3 separate regions of the Homo sapiens genome follow, and all the other regions are linked to region 1. Evidence: fine-mapped QTL for protein levels in blood plasma. A gene starts in region 1. Each other region holds a variant in brackets. All regions are shown on one strand. Distances are between the middles of the regions.

Region 1 (7,496 bases):
TAGGTGTTGTGGAAATAGCTGTGAAATATCATACCATAAATTTTCTTAACTGCTTGATTCCTGGGTTTCTGAGATGAATTATTTGTAATTAACTCCTCCACCAGACTCATTCTTTTTTCTGTCGCTCCCAAGGGGATCTGCTCTTGAGCCTGAGGTCTAGGTCAATTTGTGTAAAAGGAAATACTAACTTTATATATTTAGAAGAAATAAGATTTGTTTTTCCAGTTAGGTCCCAGTGTAAAGCTTTTTTGTTTTGTTTTTCCCCAGAGATGAACTAATAAAAGTTCTAGGCTGCATCTGCATTTACCAACATAACCATTTCAAAAACAAAATAGAAAATGTTAGTCAATTTGTTTTAACAGTGATAATAGTAAAACAGCAGCAGCACTTTTTTCAGTGCTTACTAAGTACTAAAGCAATGCTTTATATGCTGTTTAATTTCTTTTCTTTTCTTTTCTTTTTTTTTTTTTGAAACACAGTCTGGCTCTGTCGCTCAGTCTGGAGTGCAGTGGCGCCATCTCAGGTCACTGCAACCTCCACCTCCGGAGTTCAAGTGAGTCCCTTGCCTCAGTTTCCTGGAGTAGCTGGGACGACAGGCACGCACCACCATCCCAGGCTAATTTTTGTATTTTTAGTAGAGACAGGGTTTCACCATGTTGGCCAAGCTGGTCTCCAACTCCTGACCTCAAGTGATCCACCCGCCTCGGCCTTCCAAAGTGCTGAGATTACAGGAGTGAGCCACTGCACCAGCTTTAATTTCATCTTTACCATGCCCTTGGGATGTAGATAGTTTTGTCCTAATTTTACAGATAAGAAAACTTTGAATTACAGAGGTCATATAATTTTCCTATAACAATAGTTGATGTCGGGGCAGAGTCATTCACACCTGGTCTGCCCCACTCCAAGCCTATCCTCTTTACTCACCACACAATATTAAAGATTTGACTGAATGTCATCACTAACTTGCTGAATGACTCAATTGAGCTGAGTTTTCAGATAATCAGTTGTACATGTAGTCACACAAAGTTATGCAAATATAAAATGTGTAAGATGAATAATAATGGTCAGGATGGAACCCGTTCTTTTCAAAAATATGATTACCCTTAGTATTTTGAAAGCAAAAAGTAGTTTCAAGCATTACTCCATTTCAGTAAGACTGCTTTGTAAAAGGTCCTAAGCTTGTTTGTGGAGTCATGATATACTATGAGAGAACAGATCCCCATGAATGGGTAGGATTTGAAAATCCTCTTGGCATCAGAAGAATGTGAAAGATTGTCCTATTTTATTCAGGGAGACCTCATTTTTATATCTAGTTGGACAGATACTAGTCAAAAGACACAGGGATTCTGTTTATACCCAGTTGAATAAGAAAAAAACCTTGCTTTGTGAACTATCACTTCCCACTGAACCAAAGAGTATATTGGATATTGCATGGTAAATTACACTGGCCACATGTGGTAGTTCCTAAGTAATTCCAGGTGTCTGACAGTTTGACCCAGCATAGGGAATGTAATTTTCAACAAGCTGGCCCTGGAAGCCAGGAGACCCTTCAGGCTACAATCTACACACTTCATTCCCAATTTCCACCTCCCCCCACCTTTGAGCTCCCCTTGCCATCATAGCCTCTGGTTCACACTGAAGCTTATGGAAGGGAGCAGGGATGCCATCACTAACTATGATTCCAACTACCACCTATTTTTCTAGCAAGGATGCTGCCAGTAAAGCAAATACTCTGGCATTTTAAAGAAGCTTAGAAATCAGGTCCCATGAACTGACAAATTGTTTCCATGCATGTCCTATTTGAGTGCTTCAATGAGGCAACTGTTTCCATGTTTGTTCCACAGTGATTGGTAACTCAGGGACACTTAATGAAACTGCTTCCTATCCATATTGACTATGGCTTTTTGAGAGCCATTAACCTTGCCAAACCTCACTCACTCTAGGTCCACCTCTAAGGGAGGTTTAAGAGCAAGTTTTGTGCTTTACGGGGAGGAATGCATTTCAGCCTGAACCACTGCCACCTCATTCCTAGCCCTTGGCCTGAGAGGAGCACCTGCATTTAACTGATTCTAAGTGCCTGGCAAACCAGAGCGGCAACTGCACTGAGCACTTCCAGACTCTGCAGTCTGTGACTTTAGTGAGTACGAAGCCTCAAGCATGCTCTTTTAGCAAAGATTAATAGCAAATACATTTCTGTGATGATTTTGCACAACTAGCTTTTGGTTCTTGATTAAAATCAAGAAGACAATAGGTATATTCAAAAAGTGATAAACTAAGTGAGGTCACCATTAAAAAGTTCTTGAAATTCTTCTGTTTATTTTTTTTCCTTCAGCTATTTTTACAATTACTTCTCCTTCTCTCACTTTGTTAAATGAGTCAACGTGCACAGAAGGTAATTTTTCCAAATCAATTTCCCGATAACTAAGAATTACTACCTGGAAATGGACTGGGGACATGCGCCTAGACTGCGCAAGTTGAAAGAGGAAGGAAAGTTGATGCCCAAGAAATAAACAGATGGAGGCAACCAAGTCAACACATCTAAGAACAGAGTTGTTGGGGGGTGGGGGATGTGGTATGAAAGAGGACCACTCATGAAAAAAAATTGCCTTCTTTATAAAATATATGAAGGGTAAAATTTGAGGTTGGGTTAGTTGGTAGAAGTAATACTGAGTTAGAATTAAATGGACCATAATGAAGTAGGTTTAGTTGGGGTCTTAAAGTTACAAATGTCATAATTAGACTAAACACTAGTGAGAAAACAACTTGTGATTGACTCCATTAAATTTAGAGCTGCAATAAAGTTTTATGGTAGGGAAAGACTGAAATGACTGTGGTTGGTGCACACACGGAAAAGGAGCATGAAATAAGGTATTAAAGACAATTTTTTTTTCAAAACATGAGAGTGGAATAAGGGGTGAGATTTAAAATAACATTACGTGAGTGTATGATAACACGCCTTAAATATAACTCCTTTCATCTGTATGCCACTTATAAAATGACTTGAAGGCATGTGGGCATGTGAAAAGAGCTCAGTAATTTCAGTCTGCCAGCTCTATGGCAAGCCACAGAAGCTAATTAACAGTGCATAGCAATGTTTCACAATTGTTTCATTCTGGAATGGAAGAACAATTTATCTCATTGAAAGGAGGGGGAAATTTAAGGTGAAGGTAATTGCTCAAACTGGATCTTGAGCAAACACATACCCCTAACATCTGTCGGTTAGAGTAAGGTTATTGAAATTATCTTGGCATTTTTAATTAGAAGAAAATGGGGCTTCAGTTTTCTGTTTCCTCCACACAATCTTAACAAGCATCTAAGACACTAAAGATACAGAAACCTGATGACTGAGATTGCCTGAGAATCAGCAAAGAAAACCCAATGATTATAAACACATTTTAAAAGAAAAAGAGCATCACTTTACAAAATGTGGCTACTTGCACATGTAAGGAGTTGAAGTGAAGGATTCCTGTGGAGTAGAAGTGTGATGGGTTTGGAATGCATGGATTGTTTTAGAAAGATCGCCTATTGGAACACAGTGCCAGAGTGCATCAGTTTGGAAGGTGATAAGGTGAGGGTTTTTTTGTTTTTGTTTTTGAAAAAAGAAGAAAGAAGAAGAAGGGTCTTTGATAGAGGAGCAGTTATGGGAGAGATTAAGTGATCCGAAGAGAAAAAAATTAGAGAGTAAAGGCTAGTAACAAGGACTCCAAGAATTGAGGAGGCTGTAGGGTAAGGGAAGGGTGGGCCGTGTCAAAACTCACCAGCTCCGTCCGCAGTAACGATGGCCTCGGGAGAGATGCACACGCCCCTGTCGTACACTGGCAGCTCCTCGCAGGCCAGGTTCTCCGGCCACGAGTGGCGGTACTTGATGAGTATGGGCTCACAGCCCTGCCGGGCCCGCTCGCACACAGACTTACAGGGCTTGATGGGCTCGTGCTGGAAGTCAATGGTGCAGATGGGCGCGTACATGGCACAGAGGAAGAAGAGCAGATCGGGGCTGCAGTGGGTGCCCAGCAGACCTTCGAACTGCTCGATGGCCAGGATGGCGTTGGCCTGAGTGCTGTGGTGCAGGTGGTTGGGCATCTTAGTCATGTTCCAGGGCAGGGACTTGCACAGGGGGATGCGGACGGGCTCACAGGCTGCAGCCCGAGCCCCGGGCACCCGGAGCAGGCAGAGAGCAGCCAGGGCAAGCAGCCCGGCCCGCAGCAGCAGCATCCCTCCCGGGCTGCCGCAGACCATGATCCCGGCAGGATGGGGCAGGGTGCAGCCGCGCAGTGGACGCCAAAAGGCCCGCTCCGCCGTCTCCGCCTCCCCCGCTGCAAGTGGACACAAGGATCTGGGAGCTTCTCCTCCCCCGGCAATCACCGCTTCCTTGGATCAAATTCCCCCAATGGGGTCCCACGAGCTTTACCGAGCTCCAGCCACCGCCCCTGCCGCCCAGGCTGCTCTTTCCCAACGTCTAAGCCTTCGGAAGCAGCAACATCTATTTATTCCTCTCCCTCTGGCAGAAGCATCAGACTTCGCAGATCAGTCAGATAAGAGGGACACGAGAGGAGGCGAGGAAGACATAAAAACAAAAGTAGAATTCAGCTGAGAGCTAGTTGGAGCTCTGGGGTGTCTCCTCCCCTAGATCACGCACACAAAAAGATGCTAAAGAAAGCATTAAATTCCCCAAAGTGAGGAGGACAGAGGGGTTGGGGGGAAGGAGGGAGGAAAAGCTCCTAATGGGAGAGAAGGGTGCAGTAAGAGTTTACAAGTCCTGTGTGGGCTAAGAGCTGCGGCCGCCGCTGCGGCTGCGACCCTGGCTGGCAGGAGGGACGCTCAGGAGGAGCCCCGCAGGGACGTCTGTGCCTCTGCCCGGGCGGCTCTGCACTTTCCTACCTCCCGCCTGAGAGGGAGCTCCGCCCCTGGGGCAGTCTCTGCCCTCCAGTGCCGGCTGCTCTTCCCGAGAATGGAGTGGGCGCCCGGGGAAGAGAAGGCCTGGGAGTCGCAGGCGGTGGGGTGCGAAGCCGTGCGAGTGCGAGACCCCAAGACAGCGCCGAGTCGAGCGCGCCCTCACACTAGGGAACCCGTCTTTGGCCCCAGAAACGAGCCCCTAGCCCCTCACTGAAGAGCCCACCCCAATTCCCTACGGAAAAGTCCCCCTAGTTCCCCACTTGGGAACCCACCCGAGACCCTCCTTCCTGGAGGTATTTCCTTTAAGCAAACTACAGCTTTTCCTCTGCAATCACTGGCTCTGCAGAAAGTCAGACCTGGTGGGGGGAAAGGCTTAAGCAATGTCACTTTGTCCAAGTAGCGGAAAACACAGACCCCTGCGAGCAACGGTGGAGCCATATCAACCCAGAGCTAGTGACTACAGAGGTCTCCATTTTCAATAACTGCGGGGGAGGAGGTGGGGGGAGGATTGCCTTTAAAAAAAAAAAAAAAGAGAGAGAGAAACAAAGAAATGCTGTTCATGACTACAAATAGGCCACCAGAAGCAAGGAAAAGGGGTTTTTTCCTTCTATTCCCGCCCCCCCCACCTAGTGGAATTAGAACTCTTGAGCTTTGCTCCTTAAGGGTTAACGTGGAAACTAACAGCTCTAATACACTTGGACTTTTTTTTTCTGATTTTGCTCACGGATAACATGGCAGATATTATTTGTTATTCTCAGCAACAATTCTGCCCGACACTTAAAAAAAAAGTGTAGGAAAACGACATCACGCAGGTAATAATGATGATTATAACAACAATCAAAACCTTTCCATCCAGATGAGTTCAATCTGGAGGAGAAAATGGAAAACAGATCCCCTCCTGGTCTGCTTCTTCCACTAATGAGCTCCCTCTTCCCCCCACCCCCGCCCCACTCTACCCTTTCAGCTTATATTGTAAATGGAATGACCTGCAGAGGCCTTCACACTATGCCCTCTCAATGGGAAATCACTGAGCAAAAGGATTGCCGAATGTCAGAAAACACAGCCTTCATTGAGAGGAGAAGGAAACAAAACCTGAAACAAAACAGGAAGTCACCTTTGCTCTGCATCACTGAAATATTTCTCTGCTTCAATTTAGCCATCTCTCACCGTCCATAACAAGCAGAGAAATATGTCCCCACTTCAGAGCACATAGTGAGATGCTCATTTTCATTCCCTAGAGTGACTTGACAGCACTTATAAAATGTCAATGCTAACTTGAGTTATGGAATTTTATATCTAAAATGATCATAAACAGCAGTTTGTGACTGCTGTAAATTTTTTTGGAAGGAAGTTTGTTCCACTTATGGTGGCGGGGGCGGGGAACACCAGATGGTAGACAGGGAGTCAGTTAGTATACAAACTTTGCCTGGTCTACAATTATCTAGTGTCATGTAAGAGAACAAATTCAAAAATTGTACAAACGAATTTAAAATGATTTATCAAGTAAAATTTAGAGGAAAAACAACTTTAAAAGACAGTCAACATTAGAACATTTTGGGACTATTTTGTATAAGAAAAATATAGCTGAGATTTTCAATAATTAGAAGAAAAAACATCAGGAGTAGATGTAGTAGATTGTTTGCTAAATACATTTTTCTGTTCATCTTAAGTCTTACAGTGTGAGAAGAAATGTGCCAATAGTTTTAAAGGTTCTACAACTATTTGAAACAAAGTCTGTTTTCCTTCCCCTGCACAAAAGTCAGCTATCTTCTTTGTCTAATAGGTCCCCTTACAACTTTAATCCAAATTTGTTTTTATAAAAGCCCAAAATAAATGTCACTGTCTTGAGGAAGCCCTTTTGAGTACCTTGTCTAGTTGTGTTCATTTTTCTGGTTAGTTACCCTTGAACAGTGTTTGTTTTTACAAATTATTCCTTTATTTATTTATTTATTTATTTTGAGATGGAGTTTTGCTCTTGTTGCCCAGGCTGGAGTGCAGTGGCACTATCTTGGCTCACTGCAACCTCCACCTCCCGGGTTCAAGAGATTCTCCTGCCTCAGCCTCCCTAGTAGACTCACAAGCTCCCCACTTGTGAGTCTCCAAAGTCTGTTATACCTCTCAAAGATATGCCTTCTTGTACCCATAGCTTTGCTCTCATTTATAAGTGAGAACATACAGTATTTCATTTTCCATTCCTGAGTTAAATCACCTAGTATAATGGCCTCCAGCTCCACCCAAACTGCTGCAAAATACATTATTTCATTCTTTCTTCTGGCTGGGTAGTATTCCGTGGTGTATATATACCACATTTTCTTTATCCACTCATCATTTGATGGACATGGACACTTAGTTTAGTTCCATATTTTTGGTTGATGGGCACTTAGTTTGGTTCTATATCTTTGCAATTGTGAATTGTGTTGCAATAAACATATGCATGCAGTTGTCCTTCTGACAAATTGATGTCTTTTCACTTGGGTAGATACCCAGTAATGGGATTGCTGTATCAAACTGTAGGTCCAGTTTCGTTCTTTGAGAAATCTTCACACTGTTTTTCATAAAGGTTGTACTAATTTACATTTCCACCAGCAGTGTATAAGCATTCC
Region 2 (7,496 bases), 16 kb after region 1:
AAAAAGCTTATCCACCACGATCAAGTCAGATTCATCCCTGGGATGCAAGGCTGGTTCAACATACACAAATCAATAAATGTAATCCATCACATAAACAGAACCAATGACAAAAAAAAGATGATTATCTCAATAGATGCAGAAAAGGCCTTCGATAAAATTCAACACCCCTTCATGCTAAACACTCTCAATAAACTAGGTATTGATGGAACGTATCTCAAAATAATAAGAGCTATTTATGATATCATACTGAATGAGCAAAAGCTGGAAGCATTCCCTTTGAAAACTGGCACAAGACAAGGATGCCCTCTCTCACCACTCCTATTCAACATAGTATTGGAAGTTGTGGCCAAGGCAATCAGGCAAGAGAAAGAAATAAAGAGTATTCAAATAGGAAGAGAGGTAGTGAAATTGTCTCTGTTTGCAGATGACATGATTGTATATTTAGAAAACGCCATCGTCTCAGCCCAAAAACTCCTTAAGCTATAAGCAACTTCAGCAAAATCTCAGGATACAAAATCAATGTGCCAAAATAACAAACATTCCTATACACCAATAATAGACAAACAGAGAGCCAAATCATGAGTGAACTCCCGTTCACAATTGCTACAAAGAGAATAAAATACCTAGGAATACAACTTACAAGGGATGTGAAGGACCTCTTCAAGGAGAACTACAAACCACTGCTCAAGGAAGTAAGAGAGGACACAAACAAATGGAAAAACATTCCATGCTCATGGATAGGAAGAATCAATATCATGAAAATGGCCATACTGCCCAAACGAATTTATAGATTCAGTGCTATCCCCATCAAGCTACCACTGACTTTCTTCACAGAATTAGAAAAACTACTTTAAATTTCATATGGAACCAAAAAAGAGCCCATATAGCCAAGATAACCCTAAGCAAAAAGAACAAAGCTGGAGGCATCATGCTACCTGACTTCAAACTACACTATAAGGCTCCAGTAACCAAAACAGCATGGTACTGGTACCAAAACAGATATATAGACCAATGGAACAGAAAAGAGGCCTCAGAAATAACGCCACACATCTACAACCGTCTGATCTTTGACAAACCTGACAAAAACAAGCAATGGGGAAAGGATTCCCTATTTAATAAATGATGTTGGGAAAACTGGCTAGCTACATGCAGAAAACTGGAACTGGACCCCTTCCTTACACCTTACACAAAAATTAACTCAAGATGGATTAAAGACTTAAACCTAAGACCTAAAACCATAAAAACCCTAGAAGAAAACCTAGGCATTACCATTCAGGACATAGGCATGGGCAAAGACTTCATGACTAAAACACGAAAAGCAATGGCAACAGAAGCCAAAATTGACAAATGGGATCTGATTAAACTAAAGAACTTCTGCAGAGCAAAAGAAACTATCAGAGCGAACAAGCAACCTACAGAATGGGAGAAAATTTTTCCAATCTATCCATCTGACAAAGAGCTAATATCCAGAATCTACAAGGAACTTAAACAAATTTACAAGAAAAAAAAACTCCATCAAAAAGTGGGCGAAGGATATGAACAGACACTTCTCAAAAGAAGACATTTATGTGGCCAGCAAACATATGAAGAAAAGCTCATCATCACTAGTCATTATAGAAATGCAACTCAAAATCACAATGAGGTAGTATCTCACGCCAGTTAGAATGGCGATTATTAAAAAGTCAGGAAACAACAGATGCTGGAGAGGATGTGGAGAAATAGGAATGCTTTTACACTGTTGGTGGGAGTGTAAATTAGTTCAACCATTGTTGAAGACAGTGTGGCAATTCCTCAAGGATCTAGAACCAGAAATACCATATGACCCAGCAGTCCCATTATTGGGTATATACCCAAAGGATTATAAATCATTCTACTATGAAGACACAAGCACATGCATGCTTATTGCAACACTATTCACAATAACAAAGACTTGGAACCAACCCAAATGCCAATCAATGATAGACTGGATAAAGAAAATGTGGCACATACACACCATGGAATACTATGCAGCCATAAAAAAGGATGACTTCATATCCTTTGCAGGAACATAGATGAAGCTGGAAACCATTATTCTCAGCAAACTAACACAGGAACAGAAAACCAAACACCACATGTTCTCACTCATAAGTGGGAGTTGAACAATGAGAACACATGGACACAGGGAGGGGAACATCACACCCTGGGGACTTTTGAGCGGGGTGGAGGGCTAGGGGAAGGATAGCATTAGGAGAAATACCTAATGTAGATGACGGGTTGATGGGTGCAGCAAACCACCATGACACATGTATATGTATGTAACAAACCTGCACGTTCTGCACATGTATCCCAGAACTTAAAGTATAATAAAAAAACTTACATTTTATTTAATTCTTTACTAAAAAATAATGAAGTCCATATAAAACAAAAAAAAGAAAAAGAAAATAAAAACAAAAATTACCCAGCTTTGGGAATTTCTTCATAGCAATGTGAAAATGAACTAATACAGTAGTTAAGTGTGTTTGCTAGTTTGATCTATTTACACAATTCTCCTTCTCTATTGGTAGTGTGTGTTTTTCTTATACACCTGGAAACAGAAAATGCCTATAGAAATATATCTGATAATTAACATAATGGTATTCAGTTTATGTAATACCTTAAAATAATCTTTTAAGATTATTTTAAGTCTATTATTATAGACTTTTCAAGCAGTCCAAAAGGTTTTCAGGGTCTGGAAGGGGAAGTGTGGGGCACATCCAAGAACCCACACTGTAGGCTCTCCCCATGTCAGTTGAAACCCCGATGATTCTGAATTTCTGTCTAATCTCCCTTTGACAAGATATAATTACAGATAATTTCTAAAACACCCTTTCTATCATCTTACTCTAGAATAGACCTACATGTTTTGCCACATCTTTTGTATTATCGTATCTTTTAAAGCCTTATTTTATTGCTTATTTCTCCTTATGGTAACAAAGGAGCAACCAAGTAGCATACAGGTCATTCCAACATGAGTTTTATGCTGCAGTTATAATGTAGACACCTAAACAACTCATTGTGACCGAGGCCTAATTAGAAACTAGCCTTAAAATGATCCCTCACAAGACAATAAATCCAACAGAACAATCAAAAGGGCTGGGCATGGTGGCTTACGCCTGTAATCCCAGCACTTTGGCATTAGGCAGGCAGATTACTTGAGGTCAGGAGTTCAAGACCAGCCTGGCTAACGTGGTGAAGCCCCATCCGCATAAAAATACAAAATTTAGCGGGGCGTAGTGGCATGCACCTGTAATCCCAGCTTCTTGGGAGACTGAGGCAGGAGAATCACTTGAACCCAGGAGGCAGAGGTTGCAGTGAGCTGAGACGGCACCACTGCACTCCAGCCTGGGCAACAGACCAAGCCTCCATCTCAAAAAAAAAAAAAAAAAGCAATAACCAGGTTAACCCTCATTCATCTATGATTTGTTAAATGTGAGTCATACCTGGATTAAGAAAATATGGCACATATACACCATGGAATACTATGCAGCCATAAAAAATGATGAGTTCATGTCCTTTGTAGGGACATGGATGAAATTGGAAATCATCATTCTCAGTAAACTATCGCAAGAACAAAAAACCAAACACCGCATATTCTCCCTCATAGGTGGGAATTGAACAATGAGATCACATGGACACAGGAAGGGGAATATCATACTCTGGGGACTGTTGTGGGGTTGGGGGAGGGGGGAGGGATAGCATTGGGAGATATACCTAATGCTAAATGACGAGTTAGTGGGTGCAGCGCACCAGCATGGCACATGTATACATATGTAACTAACCTGCACAATGTGCACATGTACCCTAAAACTTAAAGTATAATAAAAAAAAAAGAGTAAAGGAAATGAAAGCTACCATAATATAATAACAAAAAGTCAGTGCCTATGAGAGACAAAAAAAAAAAATGTGAGTCATACATCTTACGTTTAATCTGGAAGGCAAATCAGTCTCTTTCATTGATATATAAATAATGATAAAACTAACCTGCAAACTTGGCAACCACATAAAGTATTAAATCCAATGCATTTTTTTAAATCTAAACTTTTGTCTTCAGTCTTGAAGAATAAATGCTAATCAGAATGTCAGAAGTGCCTATTGAAAGATTTTTAGGGGTAAAGTAAGACATTTCAAAATAAATTAGCCAATGTAAAGGACCTACATCTTAAGATGGATCCTCCTAGTGCTCAGAGAACCTTCCCTGGGAACAGCTTTAGTACCACTATATCACTAATCAACAGATTGGCCCCACCTGGGAATCCTGACCTGCTGCTCCTCTTGCTAACCCAACAACATTAACCATCCTGTGCAATTTTTCCTCCAAGATATTTTCTAATTGAGGCCCTTATCCTCAAGGTGGCTCTCAGCTATCTATCTCACTCTTCCCATCACTGGGTAATAACTTTACCTCTGGCTAATACTCTTTCAA[T/C]CTTTCTGTCCATTCTTCCATCACAAGGAACTGAATTATTATAATGTAACTCAGGCCAGAAAAATGGGATCCACTCAATGCTAACATCCTTAGTAACTCAATAGTTAATTTAGTAGCTAGAGAATTTCCTAATTATAAGTCTCGAAAGGTGAATGCAGACATCTTGCCTTTTTCTTGGGTATATTTAATCATATTTCATAGATACAAGATAATAATTCTTAAAGTGTAGCTGTAAGAGAAGGCAAATACAAATATTTTATTCTTCCTCTGTATTTTATCTCTCTGAAATCTACGCCTTAGAAATCCATTTTTCCTTATTAAAATTTTGGCTCCTTTTTTTCATGTGATTACTCACTCATTTGGAAACAGAAAGAGTCGAAATTAAGTCAGCTCCAGAGGGTTATGCTTTGAATTTTGTAGCCTGTATAATAACAGCAAATACTTATATATTTAGGTTGGTGCAAAAGTAATTGTGGTAAAAGTAATGAGAAAAAAAAAACGCAATTACTTTTGCACCAACCTAATAGCATTACTGTGATTTATTATGTACCAGGCCCTGTTAAAGCTTATATTTAATCACCACAACTCTAAAACATAGTACCATTATTATTATTCCCATTTCGTGAATGAGGACATTAGGCCGCAGAATAATTTTCCCAAGATCCCATGACTTAATAAGAGGTCATGTCAGGATTAAAATCCAGACAATCTGGCTGCAAATTCTGTACTCCCCGTCACAACACTGCATTTCCTCTGCATGGAAATTTACTCCTTCAGTCTTAACCCAGTGCCCACTAGAAAAAGTCTGGCATGTTTTAATATAAATACCTCACCTACTAAATTGCTGCCAGTCCCTCAGATATCTTTTTTTATAACAGCTGCATTGAGACACAATTTGATTTCCATAAAGTTTACCCTTTTAAAGTATATGATTCAGTGGCTCTTTGTTTATTCACATAGTTGTGTAATCATCACCACAAACAATTTCAGAACATTTTTATCATCCCCAAAATGAAACCTCATACCCGTTGGCAATCACTCCCATTTCTCCCCCGTAACTCCAGCCCTAGACAGCCATTTATCTATCTCTATGGACTTGCCTATTCTGGACATACATATATGCCTATTTATATAAAGAGACTCATAGAATTTGTTGTCTTTGTAAATAGCTTCTTTCACTTTACATAGTGCTTTTAGGTTCATCTATGTTGTAGCGTATATCGGTACTTAATTTCTTTCTATTGCTAAATAAATTCTACTGAATGGATATATCTCATTTTGCTTATCCATTTATCAATTGATAGACATTTGGATTGTTTCTACCTTTATGGCTATTATGAATAATGCTGGCATGAACACTTGTGTACAAGTTTTTGCATTAAATATACTTTCATTTCTCTTGGGTATATACCTAGAAGTGAAATTGAAATTGCTGGATCACATGGTGACTCTATTTTAACATTTTTAGGAACTCTCAAACTGTTTTCAAGGTGATTGTGCCATTTTGTAGTCCTACTAGCAAAATATAAAAGTTCCAATTTCTCCACATCCTTGTCAACACTTATAGATACAACATTTATATAATCTTTTTTTTTATTATAGCCATCCTAGTGGGTGTAAAGTGGCATTTCATTGTGCTTTTGATTTGCAGTTTCTTAATGACTGATGACGTTGAATATCTTTTCAAATGCTCATTGGCTATTTGTACAACTTCCTTGGGGAAATTGCTATTCAAATCCTTTGCCACTTTTTTTTCTTTTTGGTCTGTGTTATTGCTAATACCTTTGCCACTTTTTAATTGAGTTACTTGTCTTGTTTTTGAGTTTTAAGAGTTCTTTATATATTCCACATACAAGTCCCTTATTAGATATATGATTAGAAAATATATTTTATCATTTTATGGATTGTCTTTTCATTTTATTAATGGTATCTTTTGAAGCACAAAAGTTTTTAATATGGATGAAGTTCAATTTATCTTTTTTCTTTTGTCTCTTGTGCTTTTAGTGTCATATCTAAGAAGCCAAGGTCACAAAGATTGGCTCCTTTGTTTTCTTCTAAGAATTCTTAATAGTTTCAGCTCTTATCTTTAGGTCTATAATCCGTTCTGGGTGAGTTTTTATGCATGATGTACGGAAGTGATTCCACTTCATTCTTTTACATGCTACTATCTTGTTGTCTCAGCACTTACTTGTTCAAATATTGTTTCCCTTATTTCATTGTCTTGGCACCATTGTCAAAAATCAGTTTACAGGCCAGGAATGGTGGATCACACCTGTAATCCATGCATTTTGGTAGGCTGAAGCAGGCTGATCGATTGAGTCCAGGAGTTCAAGACCAGCCTAGGCAACATGGTGAAACTCTGTCTCTACAAAAAATACATAGAAATTAGCTAGGCATGGTGATGCATGCCTGTAGTCCCAGCTACTTAGGGGGCTGAGGTTGGAGGATTGCTTGAGCCCGGGAGGTGGAGGTTGCAATGAGCCGATATCATGCCACTGCACTCCAGCCTGGGGACAGAGAGGGACCCTGTCTCAAAAAAAAAAAAAAAAAATCAGTTGAACATATTTTTGGACTTTCAATTCCATTCCATTAATTCCCTAGATATCTTAATTCAATCTGATGATAATTCATAAAGACCTTAACATCAAGATTGGTTTGATCTTAGGAAATGTGTCTTGCAAAGCCTGTCACCCTTGAGCAATCTCTCAGGAAAGGAAAAGAAAGACAGGAAGATTGCGATTTCCAAATTCTACCTTGAACGTACGACTGATATGAGATCAATGCAATATTATTAACTGAATGTAACAATAAATAATTTCTTGAGCCTAAAGGAAAAATATCTGGTCAAACTGTTTAATTACTGCAACATTATGATGTTATGGAATACATCTAGGGGAGGATTATATCTTCCATCTTTAAATAAAAATCTGCTTTTACTTATTTCCTTCATAAGAGATAGTTTCCAAGCCTCTCTAGAAAATTAAATCCATGACTATAATTTATAATAAATATTTGTTTTGATCCTCAATCTTGGCTGTCAGTCTGATTATTACAA
Region 3 (7,496 bases), 33 kb before region 1:
CTTTTCAGTGCTAGGACAGGAATACCATCTCTGGGAAGCCATGATTCCCTCAGAATCACCAAAATAATGTAGAAATAAAGACATTAGAGTGAACTGCATCTGCTTTATTTATTGGATTTACCACCCAGTATAAACAAGAAATCCTTTGTTCCCTGTTTCATTGACTTCTTAACATCTCAGAGCTATCCTATGTTTCAGACATCACCCGACCCACCCTTGCTGAGGCCCCAGACTATCCTAAGTCCAACCCTGCAATCATAACATCAACCTCACATCGTGATGCTAAGTGTGTGGGGAGGGAGGTGGTGGCTGTTTGCAAGAGTGGCCACAGTACCACTGTGTAATGAGTGGGGTCATTCCCCTCCACATCCCTGTGGTGAGTAGAAAATTCTTTCCCGCATTTTCTTTCATTTCTGTGTCAGTTTCCTCAACAGCCCACAAATCCTTTTTTTTTTTTTTGGACAAATTTCCTTGAGCACAACCTTTCCTTCTTCATGGGACAACTCCTCAAGTTCTCAACAACCACCTAAGTAGAAACATGACAAACGTTTGCATTTCATCGGAAGAAAAACATATTTAGTTGTATTAACATGTTGAATCCCTGTCATAGTGAAAATACTTAATGAATGAAAAGCAGGGGGAATTAGGTCAGGTGGAATAGTTTTTCTAGATTATGGAGGACTCTGGTGGTGGGAAACATAGGGGGCATAATCTAAAAAGGAGAAATGGGAGTTCCCAGTGGAAGTAGTCGTTCTCGTTTTATTTGTAATAATTATCAACTTTTAATTTCAACTTTCTTCCAGGTGTTGTTGAATACAATTAACTGTTTACTTTTCTACAAATTCAAGGGAAAACAGAAACCTTGAAAAATGCTTTTCTGAGAGTCACACATTTTTAAACAACTAATGCCCCCAAAATTACTTAATTCACCTGCCTGTCTGTATGGAAATAATTCTACTGAAATTCTGATTTCATAAGGGAGGACACCTGAAGATGTGAAGTGACTGTATCTTGGATTAGAGTTGGGCCTATATTATATAGGCTTTCTAACATAGTTGGTAGACCTCAGTTTAAGAAATAATAGCTATTGTTATATTTATATTATTATTTATTATAATCCAATAATAGCAATAGCTACCACTATATGCCTGACACTATGCTTTTTCTTTTTTTACAGTGCTAGGATGCATTTACCTTTTTATCAGAAATTGCAGTGGTGGAAAACATATAATTTGGGAAATAAGATTATGAGGATCTAAGGCCCAGCTCTGCTACTTACACAACTCTGAAGTTCTAAATACTCATTTAAAAAAAAAAAATCTGTTATATGGGAATAAAACATCTACTTCAACAACTTTCAAGGAATAAGTGAGGTAACATATGCACAAGTGTTTCATATAGAGTTCCAGCCACTGTTAGATGTTATTACCCCAAACAGATAATTATGAAAGGTATGACTATACTGTTTTTGTTAATATTAATACATCTGGGTACCATACTTTTAAATTTTATAGGCTGGATTTCAGTAACACCATATTAGAAGTCTCTGCTTTATTTTTACCATCTTCTTGAATTTTTGTGTATTAAAATATGTTAAAACTCAGTGCTAAATGTCAATCTTGAAATACCTTTAGTCATTTTACTTGTTGAAATGTAACAGCAAATAATTTCTTGCAGAAGGCAATAGGTAGTGCTATTTGCTCACAGTGATTATAACTTTTGTTTTTGCCTTCTTAATGTGTAACACATGTGGAAAGACAGTTTGTCTCACCCCATCCCTGAATGCTGGGTGCAACATATGGCACTGAATCAGATTACATTGTATGTGACACAGTAAAATACATATCCATGAAAAGAGAATCCATGTTTGCTGCTATTTAAGTATTTGCTACTTTATTCAGCATGCATCTGACTTTAATTTGGCTAAGAAAATTAAAATCCTAAAGTTGAATAAAATTTTTTAAAGAAATATAAATTTTATCAATCTCAAGGTTACTGACAAGGATGCATGTATATTAAATTTTTAGTGGCTTTAAAAGTTACTATCTGCAAGAAAACCCTATAGAGAGGCATTAACGAGGTGTCTTTGTACTATGGCAACTAGAGTAGAAATGGTTTTGCAGTCTCCTGAGAAACGTGACCATCATGATAAATCACGCCATCCTCCCAAAAGAGGTCTGCACAGTTTATTAATGAAGATATTGTAGCTATCAAACTGAAAAACCAAATGTACTTTATTCATGGGCTTTATACCATTAGAAATGTTTAAACAGCTGACAGAAGCCTCATATAGGTGAGCAAAATCAAACATTGCCACTATAGATGGTAGTGGTAAAACAGTAGGTTGTAAAATGGCACCGAATGGAAGGTGGTTTAAAAAAAAAAAAAACTGCTGAATCTAAGAATCTGGCCGTGTTTTGTTTATATTAAGCATAAAGTGTGTCAAATTCCTACACAGAAACTGATCATACCCCCTTTACCCAACCCCCACCCCCCAAAAAAAACTGCAGAAGCTGGAAACATCTGCAGCTTTTATACATCAAAAGAGTTCCTTACTTAACATTGCTTACTGTGCATTGAGAGAGTTGAGGTTTGTGGATTTGAGATAACGGTTCCTTTAAACCTCTCCTGTAGTCAATTCTTGTCCTTCTTTACAGAGTTAACGTGAGAAAGCCTGAGGAAAACAGGCTGAGGCACCAGCACTACTTTCCACCCCTCTGTCCTCAGGCTCAAGTTGAGGCTTACATACCAGGAAGAGAGATTCTCAGGGGCAGTCCATCCACGGTGGCGCTTCATTACTCCCCAGTGACACCCAACTCACCTTTTAAGGGTAGGACATCAGCACCTCAAAAGAGATGTCCTTGCCATCTGAGAATATAGCAACAATGGGCAGATGGCAAGCCCTTTGGAAGTGGTCTTTTGGAAGCTCAAAAGACTATGCAGTCCTATAGGCAAAGGTGGGAATGTTTTCTTCTGGGGCTGGGGAAATTGTTGGCTTTGGAGAGTCAATCAGAAGGCAGGAATGTTCCCTTACTCTGTCACCTTTAAATATAGGGAGATAAATCTCCAAGTAAAGGGTTTATTTGGGAATATAAGAATTGGAATTGTAATTCTGGGCACACAAACCAGTGTAGCCTCTAGTTGTGTTCAAAGAACAAAGAGAAAGGCTGGGGTTTTATTGGGGAAGAGAGGAAGGTGATCTAAATGGTTTTGAATGAAAGTTCACTGGAGCCAGGCGCGTCTTGTAGGATCTAGCAAGTTCTGATTGGTGAGTGGCAGCAGCTAGGTAACTTTATCTTAAGGTTAGAGTTAGGTCTTCGTGATTTTTCTGTTGAACTGCAAAAATGGTTCCTGGAACAGGGACCTGGGTGCCTTTCCCCATGGCCTCCCGACTCCATTTTAGTTGGGTATGATATGAGTGACTCCAATTTGTAGAATGAACTTTCACACTTTTGTTGTTGTTACAGAGACAGGGTCATGCTCTATCGCCTACGCTGGAGTACAGTGGCCGCAATCATAGCTTACTGCAGCTTCAACCTCATGGGCTCTAGCCGTCTTCCTTCCTCAGCCTCCCAAGTAGTGGGGATTACAGGTGCACTCACCACACCCAGCTCACACTTTTAAAATAGAACATTTAGATAGATGATTATTTACCATTTTAGGAAACTTTTGTTCAGGAATGAATTTCATCCTTGCTTGATTATCCTTGTAGAAGGAAACATAGCACGATTTTTGCTTCATAAGCATTTTATTTTCAGCACGCCACAGCTTAGAAATTTGGTTCTACTAATAGCACACATGTAAATGGCAGAGAATGAAACTTTCAAGTAATTGGCACAGGCTCTAAGGAACTCTGCCAGAGGAAGGAAGTACAGATGCTCCGCCATTTACGATGGGGTTACATCTGGATAAACCCATTCGAAACTGAAAATATCGTAAGTTGAAATGCATTGGGTTACATCCTGATAAACCCATTGTAAGTCAACAAATTGTTAAATTGAAGCATTGTAAATTGAATCATTGTAAGCTAGGGACCATCTATAAAAGCATCATTTGTTCACCACAGCCCCTGGGATCTCACCACAGCTTGGGTAATGAGAAATGTGCAATTGGTTCAAAAGTCGAAATAACCTCTCTCCTGACAACCATAATTCATTTTACTAGACATTTTTCGCTGAGCATTAAGCAGCACAAATCCAAATGATAAAGTGCAGGCCAGTTTGCAGGCCTGTATTTTAATCCACCTTGGGTGTGAGTGCAAGGACACACATGTACACAAATACAGACACACACACAACAGAAAAAACAAAAACAAAAAAACCTGCATATTTTATCACTCTGTAATCTACAGCATTTTTATGGAGCCATGTACTTTTAAAAACTAACCCTGGTGCACGTGCATACATAATCTTTTCCTGGTCAATACGGCAATTCTGATTTATTTTAAAAGAAGAGAAAAAAAAAGACTTTCACCAATGGGTTTATTTAAAAGGAAGCAAATTAAACAAAACTATGGTGATAACAGCAGATGTCTAGTTATAATTCATTTCTCTAATGCTGATTAATATATTCATGAACAAATCAAATGTATTGCCAAAAGAAGAATGCTACCATTAACACCCCAGCGGCTACTGGTTTCAGTTGTGCTTCTCAATCAGGCAAAATGTTCTTTCTTAAGCTCCTATTTATTTTACTTCCTGACAGTCTCAAAAATAATTCATCTTGGGTGTTGTTTCCTCATAAACACTTCCTGGTGCTTGATTGCTTTGCCTATGTGACATTTGACTTCAAACTGCCATTTTACCTTTATAAACATTTGGAACTTTCTAAGCATGAGGAGAATGCCCAAAAGGCATACAAAAATAAGGCTGTAATTAGATCGGCAGAGTATGTTTTAAGGCATATCTAGCTTTCTGTGAATACCAGAAACCTCTCTTTTCATCCAATATTGCATTCCCAATTGGGGTGCAGAAAGTAAATTAACATCTGGAGACTCCAGCAAAGAGGCTCTGGTAACAGCATGTTTAATTTATTATTATTGCAAAAGAACAGTTTTTCTCATGATTAGTGAAATAGAAAACTCACAATATA[C/T]TTAAGAGTCTGCCCCCAAACCATTACAAAGGGGTTGAGAGAAGAGAGAAGCAGAAACCAAAAGAGAAACAGAAGTAATAATCAGTTATCACATGATTTTTATAGTAAACAATAGAATATGATGTGCAATAGTGCAATTTTCCTTTGCTAGTCCAGCAATGCAAGTAAGTCTTAATAGGAAGTCCACTGTGTTACTTTTTGTATTTCGGGATTTAGTTGCGTGCTTGCCGGGGGTTCGAGTTCCTGCCAGACTTCTGACTCTGAGTGGAATCACTATTGCTAGAATCACTTTTACTGAGTCCAAGATGACGAAGCTTCATATCCCAGCGCTGTGAAATTTAAAATAGAAAATAGTCACAAGCACATATCACCAGGGTCATTATTTCCATGATTCTAACAACTGGGTCAGACTGCAAGTTCAGATCTCTGAAGCATTTTGCTACTTTTCCAAAAGTATCAATCTATTTCCCAGGGTAACAAGAAAACTGATGCAATATGAACATTATTCTCTGACTTTAACAAGCGCAACATCTATAATGTATTTAGTAATGCTTTCTTATCAAACCTTAAACTTAAAATGTCCATGTCTATAAATGATGACAGAAATATCTCCCTATATCTCTGGGTATTTCCTGAGGTAACATACAGGAGGCTAGTGCTTCACAGATACTCAACAAATGGAAGATTTACACACAGAATTTGAAGGGAAGGCTATTTTTCAACATCCTCTCTTAATACACATAAGAACATAGCCTTTTAAAGTCTATGTGATTTGAGCAGTGAAAAAAAAATGGAAATTTTTTTGAGGGATGGGGGGGTCTCAAAAATATTTTTCTAAGTAATATCCACTAAGTACAATGAATAAAACAGACAAGGTCCTGCCCTCGTTCTAAGTGTTACAAAGCAGGTATTAGCAATGTTTTTAATAAACACAATCAAGTTTAGTAATATTTCATATTAACAATGTCAATAATATTTTCATGTAATTTAAGTTAAATGGAAGTTATATTACATGAGGATAGGTAGGGAATACGAACTACAGCTGTACTTCCCAAACTTCAAACACGGATATCATATGGGGAATTTGTTAAAATTGCAAATTCTCATTTAGCAGGTCTGAGACAGGGCCGAAGATTTTCATTACTAACAAGCTCCCAGGTGATACCTATGTTGCTGATCCAGGGACCACACTTTAAAGAGCAAGCACCATCAGATCCTTGGGTCAGATGGCCCAAGTTCAAATTCTAACTCCACCACTTACTGTGTGAAGTTTCTTGAACTTACTAGACCTCATTTTCATCATGTATATGTTGGAACTGATAATAGAATCTACTTATAAGTAGATACATCTGAAGATTAATAAAAATATAAAGTGCTTAGCACATAGTAAATGTGTTATTGTTTTTCTGTTACTGAAGGTAATTCTTCATTTCAGTATTCTTTACTCCACAATCTTGTCTTCATATTTTAAAAACAGTCTGATTCTCAACTTCCCAAGGAAGTCCAAACATCTTGAATCGTCTGCTATAAGAGACTTAGGTAAACAACCATTTGCATGAAAAAAACATAATAATGTTTCTTATAAAATTATTGATTCATCCACTGAGAGCAAAACTCAGCTAAGAGCAAATCTGATTGAAAAAATAACATCCTCCATAAAACTCTTTTTACACATCTTCAAATTGACTGGAAAACTAAAATAGGAATCTCAATAATTCTGGCCAAAGGAGATTTTCTACCCAAACTCTTTAGCCCTCAATATCTGCATATGAATTTAAAATTGTTCAAATTATTGGTTTCTTTCCTTTAGAATATTTAAATCCAGACTGAGAATATAAATGACTTTACAATAATAACTCTGCAAGTCCCCTGCGGAAAACAATGGGAAATATTGCAGAAAGCAATGGGAAACAGGACAAACAAGCCATGTGTCCTGTCAACAACACAATGATATTGTTTTGGTACCAAAAGAGGAGCAGTAAGCCTTGTTACATGCTTCGCAGCAGGGATATTGAAAGCTTTTCCAACTGGTACAGGAATTTAGGACAAATTCCAGTTCTGCATTAGCAAGCAGAAAACCAAATTAAAGACAGTAAGAGATTCCAACATACTGAACAAGAGCCACTTTTTTCTTTAATAAACACCAAACTAATTGAAGAGAGATGCAGAGAGAATGCCCGCAAGTCTGAACTTGAAATGCATCTCCCTTTTGACAAATCTACTAAAGGGGAGAAGAACTTACTGGAGGGTAGTTTCTCCTTACAAAATAATGCCCTCTACATTTTTGTAGGTCACTTAAACCCAAACGTGTCTGCCGTGTCAAGTGCCAGATGTATAAGATAAACCGCCCAGGGGTGTTTAACTTACCATGTAAATGTTTCCCAAGCCTTCAAACTTGCAGAAGG

Alleles and levels. Positions count from the first base shown, and alleles are read on the strand shown. Strength reflects both the effect of a copy and how common the allele is.
In carriers of allele T in region 2, the plasma level of the protein whose gene starts at base 4,321 in region 1 tends to be lower than with C alone (moderate association).
As copies of T replace C in region 3, the plasma level of the protein whose gene starts at base 4,321 in region 1 goes down (strong association).

The links. A credible set is the group of variants that fine-mapping cannot tell apart. PIP is the chance, under the fine-mapping model, that this variant and not a neighbour inherited with it causes the effect. Protein levels are from antibody-based Olink assays in UK Biobank. Linkage for the fine-mapping came from a reference panel and not from the study's own genotypes, which makes the PIPs less certain.
Region 2: its variant is the best candidate, but not a certain one, in a credible set for the plasma level of the FRZB protein (UK Biobank, PIP 0.58).
Region 3: its variant is the best candidate, but not a certain one, in a credible set for the plasma level of the FRZB protein (UK Biobank, PIP 0.76).

The regions. Positions count from the first base shown.
Region 1 is chr2:182,862,317-182,869,812 of GRCh38, forward strand. FRZB (frizzled related protein) reads right to left here and starts at 4,321. Exons shown (of 6, transcript NM_001463.4): 1 at 3,759-4,321. The coding sequence starts at 4,236. RefSeq lists an enhancer at 3,484-4,452.
Region 2 is chr2:182,878,273-182,885,768 of GRCh38, forward strand. No RefSeq gene overlaps it. Among named protein-coding and RNA genes, the nearest start is that of FRZB, 15 kb to the left of the region's middle. The variant T/C (reference allele first, on the strand shown) is at 4,442.
Region 3 is chr2:182,829,546-182,837,041 of GRCh38, forward strand. It overlaps FRZB (frizzled related protein), which reads right to left. Exons shown (of 6, transcript NM_001463.4): 6 at 3,730-5,420. The coding sequence ends at 5,304. Among named protein-coding and RNA genes, the nearest start is that of FRZB, 33 kb to the right of the region's middle. The variant C/T (reference allele first, on the strand shown) is at 5,092.